2 linked regions of the Homo sapiens genome follow. The protein of the gene in region 2 binds, or shares a complex with, the protein of the main gene of each other region. Each region holds a gene or a part of one and is shown on either strand. Other genes may lie near its edges. The genes, in order: CSTF3 and CSTF1.

Region 1 (7,772 bases), on a different chromosome or scaffold from region 2:
CCACTGCAGCCTCAACCTCCTGGGCTCAATCAATCCTCCCACCTAGACCTCCCGATAATGGACTACAGGCATGTGCCACCATGCCCAGCTAAATTTTATAATTTATAGAGATGGGGTTTTGCCATATTGTCCAGGCTGGTCTTGAACTCCTGGGCTCAAGCAATCCACCTGCCTCGGCCTCTCAAAGTGTTGGGATTACCACCGTGAGCCACCATGACTGGCGTTGTTTTGGCTTTCAGTTAGCGTGTTTTCAAAGTTCATGTTTTTGCATATACTAAGTACTTTACTTTTGACAATATTCCATTATGTGCATATCCTACATTTGTTTATGTATCAGCCGATGGACTTTGGATTGTTTCCAGTTTTGGCTATTATGAATAATGTTACTATGAACATTAGTGTGTAAGATTTCTTTGTGGAGTTCATTTTGTGTGTTTTCCTTTTTCTTGGATATATACCTAGAAATGGAATGGCTAAGTAATGTGGTAACTCTTATGTTTTACCTTCTGAAAAACTACCAGACTTTAAAGGGGCTGTACTATTTTACATTTCCAGTATAAGGGGTTCTAATTTCTCCATATCCTTACCAACATTTGATATTATCTTTTTTATTACAGCCATCCTTGTGGGTCTGAAGTGATATCTCATTGTGGTTTTGATTTACATTTCTCTGATGGCTATCAAAGTAGAGCGTCTTTTCATTTTCTTATTGGCCATTTGTACATCTTCTTTGGAGAAATGTCTGTTCAAATATTTTGCCCATTTAAAAACTGGACTTATCAGGAGTTTGAGACCAGCCTGGCCAACATGGTGAAACCTTGTCTCTACTAAAAATACAAAAAATTAGCCAGGCATGGTGACAGGCACCTGTAATCCCACCTACTCAGGAGGCTAAGGTGGGAGGATCCCTTGAGCCGGCGGGGAGGGGCAGAGGTTCCACTGAGCCAAGATTGTGCCGCTGCACTCCAGCCTGGGCGACAGAGCGAGACTATGTCTTGAAAAAATAGAAATAAATAAAATAAAAACTGGACGTATTATTATTACTTTTTAGAGGTATAGTTTTGCTATGTTGCTCAGGTTGGACTTGAACTCCTGGGTTCGATCAATCCTCCTGCCTCAGCCTCCCAAATAGCTGGGACTACAGGCGTGCACCACCGCACCTGGCTGGGTTTTTTCATTAATGAATTTTTACATGTTGGAGTTACAAATCCCTTATCAGACATGATTTACAAAAACTGTATCCTATTCTGTGGGATGCCTTGCCACTTTCCATGTTTAACCGTCTGTTATGTGAAGCTAACTAACTCAGAGAAATAGAACTTACAATCTTGGCTTCACAGACATGATGTACTATTCCAACTATTCTCAAACATTTTGTAAAGGATTGCTTCACATTCTTAAAAACTGAGGAGCTTGGGCCGGGCGCGGTGACTCACGCCTGTAATCTCAGCACTTTGGGAGGCCGAGGTGGGCGGATCACAAGGTCAGGAGTTCGAGACCAGCCTGGCCAATTTGGTGAAACCCTGTCTCTACTAAAAATACAAAAAATTAGCTGGGTGTGGGCACATGCCTGTAGTCCTAGCTACTTGGGAAGGTGAGGCAGGAGAATCGCTTGAACCCGGGAGGTGGAGGTTGCAGTGAGCTGGGATCGCACCACTGCACTCCAGCCTGAGCAAGAGTGAGACTCCGCCTCCAAAAAAAAAAATAACAATAATAATTGAGGAGCCCAGAGGGATTCTATCATTACTCACATAAGAAATTAAAACAAAAAATTAAAGTATTTAATTCACTTAAAAATAATAAATTCCTTAAATATGAATATAAATATTTTACTGAAGGAAATTTTCCAAAATAAAAAAAAAAGTCAAAAGAATGGCACCATTTTACATTTTCATGATCTTTTAAATGTCTGGCTGAATAGAAGACATTATCTGCTTCTTTCAATCTGTTACAATATATTGTTTTAGATGAAAAATATGAAAAAATTTTAGCCTCACAGTTACGTAGTTGGAAAAGGGAGGAAAGACCATTTTTAACAGCCTTTACATACAATTGTGGATAGGTGATGTAGCCTCTGGAAAGCCCTATGAGTTATGCTTTATTGAAACTCCTAACCACTTTCTTTCTATATGAGCTCATAACTTTTATTAGGAGGTTGTTAATGGGAAGGTGGGATGTGAAGAGGTGACAGACACTATCATGTTAATGACTGAAATAATATAATTTAAGGCTGGGCACAGTGGGTCACAACTGTAATCTCAGCACTTTGGGAGGCTGAGGTGGGAGGAGTCCTTGAGGCCAGGACGTTGAGGCTGTGGTGAGCTATGACCACGCCAATGCACTGCAGCCTGGGCAACAGAGCAAGATCTCATCTCTAAAAAAAATAGTAATAATAACAATAATAATAATAATCTAATTTCTTCCATTTCGACCATGCAGGTAAAACAGACAAAAAAAAAAAAAAAGATAATTCTCTTTCTCCAAATAGCTACTTTCATGATAAATTAGAAGGGTGTTATATTAGGAGCCATACTGAAATTAAGTTAAAGTAGGGATCAGTTAAAGTGATAACACAAAAGTATGAATAGAGGGGGAGAAAGATGGTAGACTGAAAGATTTAAGACGATGTAAGCTTTTTACTATGACCAACAGAAAAAGCAGAGTTGAGCCTCAACCCTGGTTTTATAATGAGTATTTCTCGCTATTCAGGGTAATAACTAAATATATGGGGGTGGGGAGCAGGTGGGCAGGAAAAATCAGTAAAATACCATCCTCAAATATCTGCCATTTTTTCATCCACTTATTTATCAAGAATATATTTTAAAACAACCAGCTATCATCTAACTCTGTGGTCTGCAAGCTTTTATTGACATAAAAACCACTGTGGTACCTGTTTCAAACGAAGATTCTCAGCCCCACTGAACAGTTAGGTTTGAAATCAGAGTCTACGTATCTATACTTTTATAACGCACCTAATTATGACATAAATGGGCCATGGGCTCCACTTTAAGAAATATGTACCACCTCATCTATCTGTTCCACAAATGTTTTCCAAATGTCACGTTTCATTAAAAATAAGGTGGCAACAAACCTGTCATTCCAAGTGAATTTTTTGCTAAAATATTAAGAAAACTGAATATACTATATATTTGAAGTCTTAAGTCTCTCTCTGTGGTTAACTTTTTTTCAAAATTAAAAGTAGACCGGAGTAGCACTCCGTAAGACTTTCTTTTTTTTTTTTTTTTTTTTTTTGAGATGAAGTCTCACTCTGTCACCTAGGCTGGAGTGCAGTGGCTGTACCTTGGCTCACTGCAACCTCCGACTCCCGGGTTCAAGTGATTATCCTGCCTCAGCCTCCCAAGTAGCTGGGATTACAGGTATGCACCACCACACTCAGCTAATTTTTGTATTTTTAGTAGAGACGGAGTTTCACCATACTAGCCAGGCTGGTCTCAAACTCCTGACCAAGTGATCCGCCAGCCTCAGCCTCCCGAAGTGCTGGGATTACAGACAGGCGTGAGCCACGGTGCCGTGCTGAGACTTTCATAGAGGAGTAACCTAACTGATTCCATTCATATGCCCAGATAATAAAGAACTATATGTGACAGGTGTCACAATGAGACCGGATATTAGGACCAGATGTCAGCTTAGTTCTGTGTTCCTTTACCAATGCAACCAAACCCTACTTCATGTTTGTTGTGAATGAAACTGAACATGTATCCTACAATACAAAACTAATCCCTCCAAATCATCCATAGATTAAAAATCTAAACATACAAACAACTCAAAAACTTAAAAAAAAAAAGATCTTGGGCCGGGCATGGTGGCTCACACCTGTAATCCCAGCGCTTTGGAAGGCCAAGGCGGGCGGATCATGAGGTCAGGAGATCAAGACCATCCTGGCTAACACAGTGAAACCCCATCTCTATTAAAAATATAAAAAATTAGCTGGGCGTGAGGGCGTGGTGGCGGGCACCTATAGTCCCCGCTACTAGGGAGGCTGAGGTAGGAGAATAGCGTGAACCCAGGAAGCGGAGCTTGCAGCGAGCCGTGATTGCGCCACTGTGCTCCAGCCTGGGCGAAAGTGCAAGACTCTGTCTCGAAAAAATAAAAATAAAAAAATTAAAAAAAAAAAAAAGATCTTGGCTTAACATATTAGTTCAAATAATTATATTTACCATTATCTGCTTAGTAAACTTGCATATTCATCCCCTAGGAAACAAATAGCTACAAAATATAAATTAAAATCTTAACCGTTTGGAACTTAAAAGATGAGACTTCTTTCAAATATGAATAATCCAGATTTAATACACTAAATAAACTAAGTCAAACATTAGAAAAACATTAATTAGGACACACAGAAGCTTTGCCCTTCTGATTTTATTCAATATTTACTATGTATCCTAAGTTGTCCATTAATCTAAAGATAGTTTAAACAACTGCCAACTCAAATCCCTTTTTTAGCCCAATTCTCACACCATTACCAACTGTCCAACAAAACAAAACAAAAAGACTCAAATTCACAGGTAGGTCCTATCTAAAGAGAAAGATTCAGAGACATGGTAGAAAAGCTTAAAATCACCGTCACCAAATCGAAGATTTAAAAAAAAAAGCTTAAAATCATGAATTGGTATGGGTAATTGTCCAATAGGTAAAAACACCCAAATACAGATTTTGCCCTTCTGAAGGTCTATCTGGGATGTAAATGCCTACATTCCCTGAAATAATGTTGAAGGAATGCAGTATCACCTAACACAGTACCTTTCTGCTGTATCTCTAAGAAAAACCCAATTCTCATTCTTTAAGCACAGAGCAACTTCTCTTAGGAACAACTGTCCCCAAACAGAATATTTGATAATGCTCCAGTTTCCTAAGAAATATCAACAATAAAGATCAAATCAATTTGCCTGCCCAAAACTGTTACACCAAACAAGCATCACTAAAAATAGGAGGCAGAAAACTAGGAAGGGCTGTTACAGAAAGATTTTGGAAAAAATAAATCCAAAAAAACACATTGTCCAACACACATAGTTGGCTCTTTCTCTGCCTCTTCTAACCCCTACACATATATGCACCTTGACTAAAATTGGCGATACTGTTACTTCTAAACAGCTTAAGTACTAATGTTTACCTAACGAAATAAACCAGGTTTCAGGTTTCAATGCTGTGGGTGTTTCAACTTTTTCTTTCCTTATTAATAATAAGTATATAATAGGACACATACTCTTCATTATTTTCTAAATCTTCCCAAAATTATTTTTCACTAAAAACACGTATTTATGAGCCTAAATGCTCCTTTGTTAAGAACTACCAGCAATTAATTTGCGCTTCTTAGAATCATGTAGCTTTTCCAAGCTGAGGATCATTTGGCTTGTATTTTAGGCCTTCCAAATTCTAGGATAAGTTATACATTATTTAAAAGGTGAAATATGGCTGGACTCACACCTGTAATCCAACAGTTTGGAAGGCTGAGGCAGGAGGATCACTTAAGTCCAGGAGTTCAAGACCAGCCTGGGAAACACAGTGAGACCTCGTCTCTACCTAAATAGTAAATAAATAATTTTTTTTAAAAGATGCAAACTTAATCCATTCATTTACTGAATACCTTTAAGCATCAAAATATTATTTCTTAGGTCTTTAAGACATAAAGATGAATAACATCATCTCTTCAACTAAAGAAGTTCAAAACCCAATGGAAAATGTCTAAATAACAGCATATTAAATGCCTTAAGAGTAGTGCACAAGGTTAAATAGACCTAAGAATGAGATCAAAAGTTGAATCAGGCATTAAAAAAAACAAACACCACAGGCTGGGCGCAGTGGCTCACGCCTGTAATCCCAGCACTTTGGGAGGCTGAGGCAGGCAGATCACTTGAGGTCAGGAGTTCAAGACCAGCCTGGTCAACATGGTGAAACACCATTTCTACTAAAAATACAAAAAAATTAGCCGGGCATTGTGGCGTGTGCTTGTAATCCCAGCTACTCAAGAGGCTGAGGCAGGAGAATTGCTTGAACCTGGGAGGCGGAGGTTGCAGTGAGCCGAGACCGTGCCACTGCACTCCAGCCTGGGCAACAGAGCAAGACTCCATCTCAAAAAAACAAAAAACAAACACAAAAAAACAAAACCATGAAATAAATAATACAGCCATAATTCCACACAGAAATCATATGTTTGTTAGGGGGGTAAACCTATATGCAAATAGTTTTTTCACCATTAAACTGGCAAAAACAATAAGCAAGGAGCTTCAGAAGAGATCCTTGAACACTATAAGGTAATTCCAATAGCTCTCTACATGCAAAATTGAACTTCCCTACTAGAGTTGAAAAAAAAATCACAGCAATAAACCTTTAGCAGTGATTTTGCTTGTCTGCAATAATTTCCCTCTGTTAGGGGGCACAAATCACAAATCTTAGCACCAAGAGAAAAATGACTATCCATATATTTTAGTAATAAATTTAAGATAGTATCAGGTTTATTCTACAAACTTGAACTTCAATGCTACTAAAAGGCTAAATCTACACCTGCATCTTGTAGGACTCTTTGTCCACCCCATCCCTTGGCATTTTTCCAAAGCAAATCCATGATTCAATGGTTTTAATTTTTTTCTTATTATTCTTTAGTCTCATTGAGTTTATTTTTCTCATCCATGATTTCAGGTTATTTTGGATACTCTCTTTTCCTCCAGATTTTCAATATTGTCTTAAATATCAAGCAAGGTACAGCTCATTCATATTTTCCATCCTTAAGGTGTTATTTAATGGTTATTTTAGTTGAAGCTGAATACAGTATCTAGGATTTGCTTCGAAGTAATGGGGGTGAGAGAAGCAAATGAAGTCATGGAGGAAACAAGATTAGCCATAAATTGAAGCTCTATGACAGGTACTTCATATATTATACTGTTTTTCTTACATGTTTGAAATGTATTATTAAAAAGTTAAAGAAAAGGCTATATGAAGATGACTTCCTTGTTGATAATCAGATGTCTAAATTGCCTTTCAGACTTAAGGAAAAGATATAAGAACCACCAAAAAGGTTTGGACAAGTTGAGTGTGCAAAAGAAAAATGGCTATCACTGATACTAACACACTAAGAGAAATCCATGAATCCATAGCGATACTTAATCTTTAGGAAGAAAAAAAGTCTTTTTTGCAGAAAGTATGAGCCAGTAAACAGACACAGACCAACAGAATTGTGGGTTTTAAAAACAAAACAAAACCACCATTTGCTACTTCCAATGTAAGAGCTGATTTAGTCAAGATTTATCAATTGATAACTAGGTATAAGGTGATTTTAAAGAAAACGGTTATCAACTCACAGATTATTAACTGCAAAGGGGAACATGACCCTTAACAATGAGATCACCCTAAACCAAGTGATCAAACTTAACCATCCTAACAGAACCCAGCAGAAGTACCTGCTAATGTAATGATATAATGTTAAGTATTCTATCCAAAAATACTTAACCCAAATATCAAGGCTGAGTATAGACCTAACTGTAAAGTTTTCAGGAAATACAGATGAAGGGACAAGTTAAATGACATCATCAACCCCCAAACCAAAAGCAAGCAAGCAAACAAACAACAAAAAACAAATACACCCAGAAAAGCAGTGTTAAGTGTCCTTGACACTTCGAATAGACAACAGCCCCAGGGGAGAAGAATGGTGAGACTACTTAAGAGACAGAAGTAAATGATTCAATATGTAAATCTAGATTGATTCTGGTTAAAAAAAAAATCACATTCTTGGGACAAATGGGGAAATTTAAAGAACT
Region 2 (8,100 bases):
AAGTGTGGAGGTAAGGATCCCATGGGAAACAGCCCAAATGATAAAGGAAATTTCAAAACAACTGTTATAAAACAAATGGGATCGCTATGGCAGGGTAACCGGGAAAATGCACGAAAGGGTCGGATTATTTTAGGAGGAGTTAAGAGAACTCAGATGACATTTGATGTAAAATCTGAAGGAAGTCAGTAATATGTCTGACAGAGTGTTCCAGATAATGTGTACAAAGACCCTCAGGCCAGAACCAGCTTAAGGTCTTCATAATCTGAACTTTGCTTTACCCCTTACTTACTGAGCTACTTCCTGAACTCATGCTGAACTACTTACTTACTGAAGTACCCGGCTCATACTAGGTACTGAAACAAAACAAGAATAATCTTGAAAAATTCTGCCATATGAAAATATCTAAAACCTTGCCATGGGACGTATGGATTTGTGTTCACAATCTACCGAGTTTGATGAGATGCAGGAGCTGCTCCGAGGGTGCACACACAGACTGAGGCTTGATTTCATTGATGAGGCCATTGGCGATGCTGATGTAGCCGTCATATAGCAGCTGGCTAATGATCAGCTTGTAGAGCTGCTGGCGGTCCTTCAAGCCCACTTTGGTTCTGTACATCTTGGAGAAAAGGAAGACAGTTTCCCTGCCAGCTGCAAAAACGGAAAATGGACGGTGAAGGGTACAGGCTCTAGTAAATCACAGAAGCAACATAGGACTCTTTGGTCAGACTTAATCTTGCAGGACTCAAATCCCATCTCTACTAGCTGCATTATCTTTGGTCAGTGACCTCATTTCTCTAAGCCTGAGGTTCTTCAGCTGTTAAGTTACTGGAAGTTAAACACGGTGGTGCATATAAAGCCCTGAGCACAGTGCCTGGCATACAGAAATTGTTCAAGTCATGTTAGCCAGTGTTTACGGTACAATCTCTCACCAACTTTTCTTCTCCACCAAACTAGCTACCTATGATTTTTGTTCTTTATTGTTATCCCAGAATCTTCCATTACTTCTGTTAATTAAACATTGACTGGTACCTGCAATATGCAAGATAGCTGCTATTTTGTCAAGATCTAGACTGCTGGTTCCACTAGCTGAGCTGTATGTTTACTAATCTTTTATGCTCATTCTCAAAACCTGTTTTAAGGCAACTGAGCTTGTTACTGTAATTATATAATCTAATTAGACAGTAAATCAAAATATGAAGCAAAAAAAAGCAACTGTACTACAAAAACTCCAACCGAGTTAAATGCGTTAGAAAGGCTCAAAGGTGAGCTGCCCAATAAAATATTGCCAATCAAGGTCAAAACAATAAAAATGAAAAAAAAAACAGTAATAATCGGGAAGGATTGTGCATGCACTGACTTACAAGTGTCTAAGTTTTCCTTCAGTCTTAAGAGACAAAAAACTGTAAATGGTTTCTGGCTTATTCAAAAAAGAACTCCAACTGTTCAACATGATAATTTGCTTACCAAAAATCAATGCCTTTATGTATGTGTATGTTTGGACCAAGATTAAAAGGCTACAGGTGTCTGGGGACAGCAATAAAGAATAAAAGTGACCTCAGAGCCTGATTTCTTTTTTCTTTTTGAGACGGAGTCTCGCTCTGTCGCCCAGGCTTGAGGGCAGTGGCGCGATCTCGGCTCACTGCAACCTCCGCCTCCTGGGTTCAAGCTATTCTCCTGTCTCAGCCTCCCGAGTAGCTAAGACTACAGGCGCCCGCCACCACACCAGGCTAATTTTTGTATTTTTAGTAGAGACGGGGTTTCACCATATTGGCCAGGCTGGTCTCGAAACTCCTGACCTCAGGTGATCTGCCTGCCTCCGCCTCCCAAAGTGCTGGGATTACGGGCGCGAGCCACTGCGCCTGGCCCAGAGCCTGATTTCTTACACACTGTATGACACTGATGGTGTTAATAATAACCAATAACATTAAGCACTTCCTGCATGCCAGATACCGTCATGCTAAGTACTTTGTAAGCATCAGTTCACTGAATAAAATCATTCAATGTATTCAAGTATATGAAGTAGTACATGAACATAGTAGGTCTATGCTTGAGTAGAAAATCCTGGGACACAAATAAAGATGATGAAATGGGTTCAAGGAGGTCAGGACACCTACTCAACGTAAAAAGTGGCTGAGTTACTTGTCCAAGGTTAAAGCACACCAGAATTGCCAACTCCAGATCCCTGAGCTTAACCACTGAAGGAGTTCAGGAAATGCCAGCCCAAAACAAGATGCTTTGGCGGGCTGATTACCTTGAACTGAGGGCACCTGGAGAACAGCAGGCGGGAAGAGGCTTTCCCTGTGCTTTCCTTACCTGCCTAAAGTCTGACCCTCCAAAAATACCTCAATTGTCACGAATCCTTATAAACCAGGGAAGATTAACTCGGATCACATGAGAGATTAGAGGCTGACACCACCCAGAAGATCACCTATTCTGTCTGCATAACAAACTTGATTCACCATACATTTCCTCCGTTCACCGTCCCATAACTTGTGTTAGAGCTGCTTCCCGCCCCCCGCCCCCAATTCTCTATTCATTCCTTTCAGTAGCTCAGGATGCCATGTAGGCTTTAATCATCTGACTTCAACTTTTAGTCTCGTATTTTGTGGGACTCCTGTACGTAATTAAATATCGTTTTTCTCCCATGGACAATGTTCAGTTACCCGAAAAAAATGGGAGATTCTTAAGTACCAATAAAGAATGAAAATCACAAGTGGGTAGTCTGGCAAAGAAAAGTTGATGAGAGATTCTACTGTTAACGTTGGGTTAATATGACTCGAATAATTTCCGTATGCTAGCTCAATGCTTTACATGCACATCCTGTTTACCCTGCAGTAATCTGTTAATTCGTCTTATGTGAATTTAACTCTTAGTCCTAATAAGGTACCTGGAAGGATGGAGGGAAGCCATTTTTGGTTCCCCTACACCACTGTTCTATCCGGTCTCTTCACTTCTGCTGAGCACATCCCGGGTGTACATACACACACACACACACACATATGTGTGTGTATATATATGTATATGTGTGTGTGTGTGTATATATATATATATTTTAAGTGGCCCACCCCTAACTTCTCAACTCCCACAGAACGTTCACTCGCCAGGTAAACAGAAGCCTAATTATCCCCAATTTGCAGGTGAGCACACGAGGACAAGAACCCGATCCAGGACCGGATACATCGCAGTTGGAAAGGCTAGAACACAGATGCCCCCTCACTATATGCGCCGCGACCATCTGGATGCAGAGGCGAACTAAGGACTGGGTGGGAATGGAAGCGAGGCCCTTCGAGAAGAGGAAGGGGTGCAGGCCAAGCCGGGCAACTTAGGAAACGCAAAGTAGAGGCGCATGCCACCTTGCTAACTCTCGACTCTTCCAGTCTCGCCCCAGTCGTTTCTGTGGTTTTCTCTAAATGCCCCAGCCGACCGCACCAGCTACTCTCCCCGTGTCCCAGTACCAGCTGGTCCGGTTCTCTTGGTATCCCGCTCTCTCCTGGAAAAATGGAGGCGCGAATCCTGCCCAATCTACCGCTCCGAGCGCACGTTCACTGCGCACGCTGAAAGGGCGCCAAGCCGACCGCTGCGCTATCGATCGGTCCCACTCTCTCTTGCTTTTCTCGCCATCTTACTTACTGGCACGTTCAAAGGTTAGTTCACCTCCTTGGACTTTATCTCCAATGCGTCAAGCTTGACGTCAAGGGGCTGTTGCTTCACCGATAAATGGCCGACCGCGGAGAGCACCCTGGGGCTGGGACTGCCACAGGTCTGGCTGGCCGTTGGCTCCACCACTTCCGGGTTCTTAGGGAGCAAGTGCGCCTGCGCGCGGTGTGCGCCCTTAAACGCGACTCAAGGCGTCGGGTTTGTTGTCAACCAATCACAAGGCAGCCTCGCTCGAGCGCAGGCCAATCGGCTTTCTAGCTAGAGGGTTTAACTCCTATTTAAAAAGAAGAACCTTTGAATTCTAACGGCTGAGCTCTTGGAAGACTTGGGTCCTTGGGTCGCAGGTGGGAGCCGACGGGTGGGTAGACCGTGGGGGATATCTCAGTGGCGGACGAGGACGGCGGGGACAAGGGGCGGCTGGTCGGAGTGGCGGAGCGTCAAGTCCCCTGTCGGTTCCTCCGTCCCTGAGTGTCCTTGGCGCTGCCTTGTGCCCGCCCAGCGCCTTTGCATCCGCTCCTGGGCACCGAGGCGCCCTGTAGGATACTGCTTGTTACTTATTACAGCTAGAGGTACAAGGGGTTTGTTGAGTGGTGTTGACATGCGCGGGAGGGGTGGGTGGGCTTCAGATTGGATTTTGTCCTCCGAGATCACCTGGGTAAGAAAAGCACAGAAGGTCTCTGCTGTGTTGGAGTTCACGTTCTAGTGGGTGGGGAGACAGACGGTAAGCGTACGGAGAACTTGCAGCTGGGGTGGGTGTTACAGAGGAAAAGCAGGAGTGCGGTTTAACGGGGGCCGCTTTAGATAGAATAGCCTAAGAAGGCCCTTGTCCTGGCTGGATGAGTGGGTGAATTGATGAATGAGAACCTCCTTGCAGAGGCCTTCCCGGTCCGTACTTCTCAGACCGTAGACCTTGGAGCAGTTGTACCGGGATAACTTGCAGTGCTTGTTAAACATATAGCTCCACCGAGAGCCCGGTAAATCAGAATCTCTGAGGGGTAGGACCCAGGTGTCTAGTTATTAACAAACTCTCCAGATGATTCTTAGGTTTCATTGAGAACTAGGGATGCAGACCGGTGCATACAAATCGTCTGGGGACGTTAAAATGCAGAATCTGTTTTTTTAGACCTGGGGTTAGGCCTCAGAGTCTCCATTTCTAAGAACCATCCGGCTGAGGTAGACGTAGCCACTGTCCTTAACTCTCGTAATGTCTCTTCCTCTTCCGTAACCTTCCTTGTCCCTTGAATTAAACGTTTTTCAGCAACCTACTCAGTTCGTCCTTCCCTTCATCTCTGCAGACATGCACAGGTCTGAGGGAGGAAGGAATAAACCGTATAAACCTCCTGCGCTATTAGCCTAACAGCTTTTCTATTCAAAATAGTAGGACTTCTGGTTTGAACTGAATGGATCCTGTGAAAGTCATCTGGTTCTTCAATCTGGTTGCAGATTAGAGTCACCTGAAGGGCAGTCTCCTTGGCGTTGTCTCCAGAATTCTGGATTAGAATCTTATTCCATTCTGCTTGTTATTCAATTTCCCTAGAAAGAAAGGTAGAATAAATTGGAGCAAATGCCTGTAGCTTCTGTCAGAAGAATGTTGAATAAATGTTGTTAGGCCTATGTGATCTCATTAGACTGCTACTTAGAATTGTAAGGGAAGTAAAGCATTAGAGCATGTGTGAAATTAAATATTTGATTAACACAAGTGTGCATTTCCTTGTTGCTGTTTATCAACTTTTACTTACCCACTGTTTTTTTATAAGGGCTGCAGCCTGTAGTCTGGGCCTGGCTTCATCATGGAATTATTTGCTTAATTGTAAAATGGTAATCTTAATTTTTTTTTTTGAGACAGGGTCTCACTCCATTGCCCAGGCCAGAGTGCGGGGATATTTGATAAGAAACTTCAGTGAAGGCCGGGCGCGGTGGCTCATGCCCGTAATCCCAGCATTTTCGGAGGCCGAGGTGGGTGGATCACCTGAGGTCGGGAGTTCCAGACCAGCCCTACCAACATAGAGAAACCCTGTCTCTACTAAAAATACAAAATCAGCTGGGCGTGGTGGTGCATGTCTGTAATCCCAGCTACTCTGGAGGCTGAGGCAGGAGAATTGCTTGAACCCAGGAGGTGGAGGTTGCGGGTGAGCCGAGATTGCGCCATTGCACTCCAGCCTGGGCAACAAGAGCAAACTCTATCTCAAAAAAAAAAAAAAAGAAACCTCAGTGAAATGAAAGACTGAACTACACACCTGGGGGAAAAGCGTAATAAAGGGAGCAAGAAGTGCAAATGCTTATGGCAGGGGACTTATTTGCAGAAAGAAAGCCTTGTGTGGCTGGTACACGGTTGACAAGAAGAGGAGATGAAGTCAGAGAGGTAGTTAGGGTCCATGTTCTGTGAGACTTCAATAGGCCTGTCTATGCAGGTTAGGAGTTTGCATTGTTTTGATTGAGTTGGGAGCCATGGGGGTCTTCTGAACTGAGGATCAACACATCTGATTTGTTAATGAGATTGCCGGCCTCAGTGTTAAGAATGGACCATGACAGGGTAAGGGTGGAAGTGGGGAGGCCATTGGGAGGCTGTTGGAAAAAACTCAAGGGAGAGAGAATAATGGTTTGACCAGGTGGTAGTAGTAGAGGTGGTGAGCAGTGATCTTGAAGGCAGAGCCTACAGAATATGCTGGTGGATTAAATGAAGGGTTTGCGAGAGAGAACCTCGTAAAGGGTTATTATGCCAAGGCTTTTGGCCTGAGCAACTGACAGGATGGGTTTGCCATGCACTGAGATGAGGATGTCTAGAGACTAGATTTGGGGAGGTGAGAGTGGGGAGAGATTAGGACTTCTGTTTGGGACATGTTAGAATGGAGATGCCGCTCAGATAATCAGGTGCAGATGTTGCATAGAAAGTAGAAAATGTAGATCAAGAGTTCAGGGGAGAGGTCTGGGCTGAAGAATGAATATTTGGGAGTCCTCAGCCTGTAGATGGTACTGAAAGCAAAGAGACTGGATGTACTCGGCTAGGGAGTAATTGGAGATGGAGAAGTCATTCTAGGCCTGAGCTCAGGGCACACCCATGAACAGGGAGGTGAGAAGTGGAGAAGGGAAGAGGTTCAGTTTTGGATATGTTAGGATTGAGGTGCCTGGCAGACATTTTTGGGAGATCCTGGGCAAATCCTTGGATATCCAAGTCTGACAGTCCAAGGAGAGACTAGGGCAGAAGACGCACTTTGAGTGGTCCTCATGAAGGCATTTAGAGCTGAGGCACTGGGTGATATGGATCCCTGGTGAAGGTGTAGATGGAGAAGTGGAGGGTCCAGGGACTCGTTCTTGAGTCACCCCAGACCCTTGATCTGGCAAAAATGAGACTGACCCAGCAAGGAGGGAAAGACAGGACGACTAGGTGGTAGATAAACCTGGAAGTGAAGTGAAGAAAAAAGTGTAAGATGTGATCAACCTTGTCAGATTCTGCTGAGGATGCAAGTACGGGGAAGGTGGAATTGACCCTTGGGTTTGGCAGCAGTAGGTGTCAGCCATGAGCCTGACAATGTGGTGGAGACAAAAAAGCCAGGTGGGGATGGGCTCAGGGGAGGGGAGAGGAGCAGTAGAGGTGGCAAGTGTGGACGGTTCTTCTGGAGCTTTGCTGTTGGAGAGGAGGGGGTCATTGTTAGCAACGATAATAGAATAAAGAGGACTTTTATTTTATTTTATTGTTTTGAGACGAAGTCTCGCTCTTTTCCCATAGGCTGGAGTGCAATGGTGTGATCTCAGCTCACTGCAACCTCTGCTTCCTGGGTTTAAGTGATTCTCCTGCCTCAGCCTCCCGAGTAGCTGGGATTACAGGTGACTGCCACCACGCTCAGCTAAGTTTTGTATTTTTAGTAGAGACGGGGTTTCACCATGTTGGCCAGGCTGGTCTCGAACTCTTGACCTCAGGTGATCCGCCCACCTCGGCCTCCCAAAATGCTGGGATTACAGGTGTAAGCCACCATGCCCGGCCTAAAGAGGACTTTTTTAAGGTAGCAGGTATGCCAGTAGGCTGCACAGGGATGGAAGTGATCCATTAGAGGAGAGATGATGGAGCAGCAAGACCATCAGGAGTGAAGACTCCGTGACAGAGGATGGGACGCAGTGCCCAAGGGGAGGTTGGCCTTGCAGGGAAAGCACATGCCTGTCCCTCCCTCATTAGCTTCATTTGGACAAAACATGTAAAATCCGGTGTGTTGTGGAGGCCTTTTGATTGGGGAACTGTAACGCTGCCTATCGAGCAACAGCACTTTAAGCAGGTGGCTTTGTTCAAATTAAAGGTTCTTCTTTTTCTTTTCAGGCATCATGGACCGATCTAAAGAAAACTGCATTTCAGGACCTGTTAAGGTAAATTGAATAATCTGTAATCTCATTCACATTTATAAACCCACATGGAGGTTGGTCTTGTCGGGAATTCTTTCCGCCTTTACTTTG

The links.
Region 1: the proteins of CSTF1 (region 2) and CSTF3 are in contact, whole or in part, in a crystal structure (PDB 6B3X), measured with the Homo sapiens proteins. Residues at the interface, in NP_001028693.1 of Homo sapiens: Arg118, Glu216, Ala217, His226, Pro227, Ser228, Asp230, Phe231, Thr240, Arg242, Leu243, Tyr244, Cys251, Phe252, Val253, Ser254, Cys255, Tyr270, Ser272, Ser273, Ala274, Asn275, Gly291, Val292, Ser293, Asn294; in NP_001317.1 of Homo sapiens: Tyr581, Pro582, Lys583, Pro584, Asp585, Thr586, Gln588, Met589, Ile590, Pro591, Phe592, Pro594.

Annotation. Positions count from the first base shown.
Region 1 is NC_000011.10:33,151,263-33,159,034, forward strand, and holds part of CSTF3 (cleavage stimulation factor subunit 3), read right to left. Parts: intron 1-7,772. UniProt on the Homo sapiens protein: One of the multiple factors required for polyadenylation and 3'-end cleavage of mammalian pre-mRNAs.
Region 2 is NC_000020.11:56,388,069-56,396,168, reverse strand, and holds the start of CSTF1 (cleavage stimulation factor subunit 1), read right to left. Parts: upstream 3,525-8,100; 5' UTR 3,456-3,524; exon of another isoform or gene 3,354-3,455; intron 649-3,353; 5' UTR 617-648; coding exon 448-616; intron 1-447. Other genes in the region: AURKA (aurora kinase A), read left to right, coding at 7,761-7,857, 7,967-8,013. UniProt on the Homo sapiens protein: One of the multiple factors required for polyadenylation and 3'-end cleavage of mammalian pre-mRNAs. May be responsible for the interaction of CSTF with other factors to form a stable complex on the pre-mRNA.